Linked DNA regions of Homo sapiens: region 2 is linked to region 1. Evidence: fine-mapped expression QTL. Tissue or cell type: whole blood. Region 1 holds a variant in brackets; the other region holds the start of a gene. All regions are shown on one strand. Distances are from middle to middle.

What was found. PIP is the estimated chance that this variant, and not a neighbour inherited with it, causes the effect.
Region 2: ARHGAP21 starts here. The variant in region 1 is fine-mapped to the expression of ARHGAP21 in whole blood (INTERVAL, PIP above 0.99).

What each region holds. Positions count from the first base shown.
Region 1 is chr10:24,819,039-24,821,939 of GRCh38, reverse strand. No RefSeq gene overlaps it. Among named protein-coding and RNA genes, the nearest start is that of ARHGAP21, 97 kb to the right of the region's middle. The variant TCTTCTTTC/C (reference allele first, on the strand shown) is at 1,754.
Region 2 is chr10:24,722,556-24,725,456 of GRCh38, reverse strand. It overlaps ARHGAP21 (Rho GTPase activating protein 21), which reads left to right and starts at 1,570. Exons shown (of 26, transcript NM_020824.4): 1 at 1,570-1,895. RefSeq lists silencers at 451-830, 1,581-1,770, 1,801-1,870, 1,961-2,040, 2,061-2,420 and 1 more and an enhancer at 1,127-2,037.

The DNA of each region.
Region 1 (2,901 bases):
CAGAGGTTTCAGGCCTCCACTGAGGTAGTCTTGAAATGCATCCTTTACAGCTAAGGTGGACTGCTGGATAGACCCTTTTTTCTTTTTGTTAATGGATGGGGTCTTGCTCCAACCTAGCAGGTTGGAATGCAGTGGCGCAATCATGGCTCACTGTAGCCTCGAACTCATGGGCTCAAGCCATCTTCCCACTTCAGCCTCTCGAGTAGCTGGGCCCAAGCCACCACACTGGCTAATTTTTTAATTTTTTGTAGAGACAGGGTCTCACTATGTTGCCCAGGCTAGTCTCAAACTCCTGGCCGCAAGTGATCCTCCCACCTCGGCCTCCCAAAGTGCTAGGATTATAATCATGAGGCATCTCACCCGGCCTAGACTTTCTGTTTGTGTCAATTCAGTTTCATTCATTCATTTGACAAATATTTATTATTTAAGATATACTAGGCAGTGGCCCTTTACAGTACAGTGCATGTCTATTTAGTATGACCCTTTAGTATCCTAGATATTAGCCCTTTAAAAATCAAGAAGTATCTCAAACATGACTCCAGACTTAAATTGAATGATGATTTTTTTAAGAGATGGGTCTTGTTATGTTGCCCAGGCTTGAGTGTAGTAGCTATTCACAAGCACAATCACAGTCTCGAACTCCCTGGTCTCAAGCAATCCTCCCGCCTCAGCCTCTTGAGTAGCTGGGACTATAAGCACCCAGCTAAAATGATGATCCTGATCACCAACTAGATACTAGATATATAATGAGGCATGTTTTTAAAAATTACACAGATTCTTGCATCATTTATGGCAATAAACAAACCAGCCATCTTTCAAGTGTGATATTTCCCAAAGTACCCATGGAGGTGCTGGCACGAGCTTGCTCACAAGCAATCTACCCTGACCTTGAACACTCACCCCTGTTACCCAGCTCTTGTCTAGGGCTCCCCTATACAGACCCCAGGACAGGCTACTGTTGGAGCAGCCGAAATATACAAGGCCTCCAGCCTGGGCCTGCTGGGAGCAGGGGCTGGTGCCTCAGGGCATCCTGACTGGCTGGCTGGTTTCCATCCATTTTGCCTTGGCCCATGGACACTCCTGCCTGCTCACTTGACTTCGGGACCTGAGCTGACACCACAGCCATAGGCCCTTGGCATTTCCAGTCTGCTTCTGGCTTTGTGCCCTGTCTCCATGATCCACTGCTGCTCAAGCCCAAGCTTGACAGTCGTGACTAATTGGGGCAGGTCACCCTTTCAGCTCCAAGGTGATATCCCATCTACCTCCCTCTAGCTTGTCTGTCTCAAACAAAGGCATTTTCTTCTAACCCCCAGCAACCTCAGAATGACTCCTACTGTATGTACATTTACTTCCTAAACTATAAAAGCTAACAGAGAAAGAAATTTCCTTTATGTTCCTTAGAAACAAATGGGAGCAAATTTACTAGAAATCACCTTGCAGTTTCATCCAACCTCTTACTGTCTATGTTATCAACACATCATTTTACCTCTCTGGAACTCAAACTTAAAATGCAAGCACTAAGCTAACCCACTGCTGCTAGCTCTCCTGGTATAATACTGGAAGGAGGAGGTTAAGAGCATAGGCTTTGCAGATAGTCAGGTCTGTGTTTGAGATTTCCAATTTTCTTTCTCTTTTTCTCTCTTTCTTTTCCTTCCTTCGTTCCTTCCCTCCCTCTCTCTCTCCCTTTCATCTTTCTTTATTTCTTTCTTCTTTCTTTTCCTTCTTTCTTTCTTTCCTTCTTTCTTTCTTTCTT[TCTTCTTTC/C]TTTCTTTCTTTCTTTCTTTCTTTCTTTCTTTCTTTCTTTCTTTCTTTCTTAATGGGGGAGTGCAGCAACATGATCAGACTGGAGTGTAGTGGTGTGATCTCGACTCACTGCAAACTCAGCCTCCAGGGTTCCAGTAATCCACCCACCTCAGCCTCCAGGGCTCCAGCAATCCACCCATCTCAGCCTCTGAGTAGCTTGGGACACAGGCACATGCCACTTATGCCCAGCTAATTTTTTTTATTTTTGGTAGAGACGGGGTCTCATCATGTTGCCCAGCCTGGAAATTGACTAACTTTCAACCATGGACAAGTGGTTTAACCTCTCTGAACTTCCATTAAACAGAGATAATACCTACCTCATAGTGTTGTTTTGAGAATTAAATGAGACACTATATGTGCAGTTCTTACCAAATAGTATTAATCAACACACAGATAAAATATATAAATACATAGTTACATGTAAATATTTAGTGCTTACTTTTTTTAATCATTCATCTCTGGATACCTTCTCTTTCATCTCAGTCCTTGCTACTTCACAGCATACTTTAAGAAATAGTTACATGTTTCTATGGCCAGGTAATATTTGTCAGAACCTTGTTTTTTTTTTTTAATCAGGGTACAAAATTTTAGTTTTTAAAGTTACCTTTATCAAATCTATGGTTAAAATAGTTGTGGAGCTGCTCTAATTTGAACAGAACTTATTTTTTTTAAGTACAGATTATTTTGGCAACCATTTTCTGATCTGATTACAATAAAAATTTTTAAAAGAAGTTCCAGTTTTATTGCCAGCCACGGTGGCTCACACCTGTAATCCCCACACTTTGGGATGCCAAGGTAGGAGGATTGCCTGAGCAGGAGTTGGAGACCAGCTGGGGCAAAAATCCCATCTCTACTTTAAAGAAAAGAAAAGAAAAAAAAAGTTTCAGTTTTTGCTTTTGGGTTTTTGTTTTTTGTTTTTGGGGATTTTTTTTCTGAGACAGGGTCTCACTCTGTCACTGGAATGCAGTGGCATAATCATGACTTACTGCAATCTCCACCTCCAGGGTTCAAGCAATTCTCCCACTTCAGCCTCTCCAGTAGCTGGGACAACAGGCATGTGCCACAATCCCCAGCTAATTTTTTTTTAGTAGAGACAAGGTC
Region 2 (2,901 bases), 96 kb after region 1:
TTATTCTATTTTTCTTTTCTTGATTATTAGCTGACTTGTTTGGTGACAGGCTGTCAAGAACACGCAAATTTCATGGCCATATAAAAATGATCTCGTCAACGTCTTCCCTCGAATTGAAGCGGAGGATTTAGTTGTAGATTTGGTTTGGCACCTTCCACTTTAAGGAAGATGTAAAAACTAAGGCGCAGGTACTCCAGCTGCAGGGAGTGTTTTTTGTCCCCGCTCCCCTGTCCCCCATAAAGAAACAGGACCTCAGGTGGTGGGCGGGCGGGGAAGGAGAAGGGATGTTTCTAAGTCTACAGGGGAGAGTGTAGAAAGAAAGAAGGAAAAGGTAAGAGGACTCCACAGTTTCTAGGTTTTGTTCTTCTTTTTTTCCCTCTGGACAGCGGTGGCAGCTGATCAGACACAATAGCTGGCAGTCCCCGGCCGCAGTGAGGATAAAAATGACCCTCAACAGCACCAGCAGGAGCACCGAGAAGGGGAGGGGAGTGTGTATGGGAGGGGGCGAGGATGAGGGTGACAAGGTGACAAACGCTGCCTCTGACTGCGAGCAACTCCCCCTCCAGCCCCGCGAGGCTCGGAGCCGGGGAGCCACCTCCCCGGAGCGGGGCGGGGTGGGAAGGAGAGGCCGAGGGGGCGGTGGCCTTCACCCGGGGGCGGGGAAGAGGGCGGAGGGAAGCCTGATTTACCAGCCCCTGATTGGTTCGCGTTCTCTCGTCGCGTCTCCCGATTGGGTAATTTGCAGCGGGAGATGTTGTGAGGCACGGCGGGGCGGAGCGAGCTGCCGGGGTCTGTGACAAGGCCCGGGAATTGGGTGGGGAGGGTGGCGGTTGTGCCGCGGCTCCGGAGCCGCTGTGACCTGGAGTGTGGCGGACAGAGAAGCGCAGCCGCCTCTCCACAGTTCCGCTAGCCGCGCCAAATTCGCTCAGCCGCTCTGCAGAATTTATAAAAGGGAAAGAACTGAATGAGCAACGCTTGGCTAACTTCCCCCTTCCCACCACAGGAAGAGATTTTTGCTGTGAGGCGTGAGGGGACACTCCCTTATCTGGAAGTCCCACGTCTCGTCGCAGCTTCATTGCCTTCCCGCTGCAAAAAAGGGGTGGGGGCACAATTTGCCAAGCCCTGTCCCCCAATCTAGGACCTTTGATCCCTGGAGTCTGCAGATGTCGCTGTTATAGGCTTGTCCCCCTCTCCACCCCAGACGTCTACCACCAGGTCTCCTTTCCCGGGAGCAAGCCCATCCCTGGACGCTGCCGTTCAGCGCTTGGGAGACTGCAGGGGCGGGGAGCGTTGTGTGCCTGGTTTTGGGGTGCTGGGGGGCGAGGGCTTGTAGGTCCCGCGACCCACGGGGAGGGGGCAGGCGAGCACCCCGCTCCGGCCTCCGGCTAATCCCCCTTCTCCAGCGTCGGTTCCCCGGTCCCGTGTTATTCAAGACAGAAAATATTCAGCCCCAGAGCCTCCCCTGGGGAGGGGAGGGGAAGGAGGTGGAGTGGGAGGAGGTGGATCCAGGGAGGAAGAAGCGAGAAATCCGCCCCCGGGAAACAGCTCCGCGCGGCCACGGAGCGAGGCGCTTCTGTCACTTGGCGTTCGCGGGCGCCGGAGCTGGGCCCCGGCCCGGCCCGGCGAGGCGAGGGGAGAGTCCGGCGGCCGCCGCCCCGCCCCACGCCCTCCTGCGGCGGCCGAGAGCCCGGGGCCGGCCGGGGCAGGTCGCGGCGGTGCCTGGGAGCGGCCGGCCGGGGGCGGCGGCCTCGGAGCGCGGCGGCGGCGGCGGCGGCGGCGGCGGGCAGCGCGGGATCGTCCGGCTGCGGGGTCCGGCTCACGCCGGGCGGGCGGGCGGGGCGCGCTGTCCCGGAGCCGGCCAGCCCCGTGCGGATCCACTCGTCCCGCTTCCTCTGGTGCGTGTCTGGTTTCTTTTCCGTCTCAGCCGAGAGGGCGCTGCGCTCGCGGGCCGTGGAGTGCCCGGCTTGCCGCGGGCTCTCTCCCTTCCCGCCACAGGCCACCCGGCCGGGCGCTGGCTCGGGGCCGGAGGGAGCCCGCGGCGGGCGCCCGGCGGGGGCGGAGGGGCCGCGCCCGCGTGTGCGGAGCAAGGGCGGGCGGCGGGGCGGAGGGAAGGGCACAAAGGCCGGCGGTGGGCGCTGGGGTCCGGCCGGCCAGCCTTGGAGGAGGGGCGCCTGGGGCCGCTCATGAATATTAACCGAGCCTGCGGCCTAGCGCGTCCCGGCCGGGCCCGGCGCCCGGCCAGCGTCTCCGCTTCAGCTCGCCGCCGCGCTTCGGCCGCCGGGCCCGAGCGGGCGGGAAGGGTAAGGCCCCCGGTTTTGTCTCGCCCCGGGGCTCCTAGCACCTTTGAGAAAGTCCATATTGGGGCCGCTCTCCTCGGGAGCTCGAGGTCCCCGACCCGCCTCAGGAAGGGGCGGGGGAATCGTGGGGAGGTGGGTGGTGGTTTGCTTTTTCTCGTTTTTTCCCCCTAGGTGGCCACAGGGGAAGGGAAGCCGTGTCGAGTGGTAGTTGGGGGAAAAGCCGCGACTTCAGAGTTGCTCGGGTGTAGCTCCAGAATCATGCCCTGGAGCGGGAGCGGCGCCGGCGTCCCACCCGCGGCCGCGCACGCCTCCCCGGCCGTCCCCACCCAGCCCCGCCGCGGGCCAAGGAAAACAGCCGCCTCCTCGGGGACGCCGGCCGGGGCGGAGGGGCGGAGGGGCGGCGCCCGAGTCACCCGGAGACGCCGCCGAGCCCACGCCGGCCCCAGCCAGGCTGGCTTTGTGCTTGCGTTTTTGGGGGGCGGAGGGGAGCGAAGAGGGGGCTTGGAAAGTGTGATCCCATTTCAGCCTCGTGGGGGAGAAAACTTCACCGAAGTGTCCCTGTCTGGGTGATGCAGAAAACAACATGCACAGCCCTCTGCTCTAC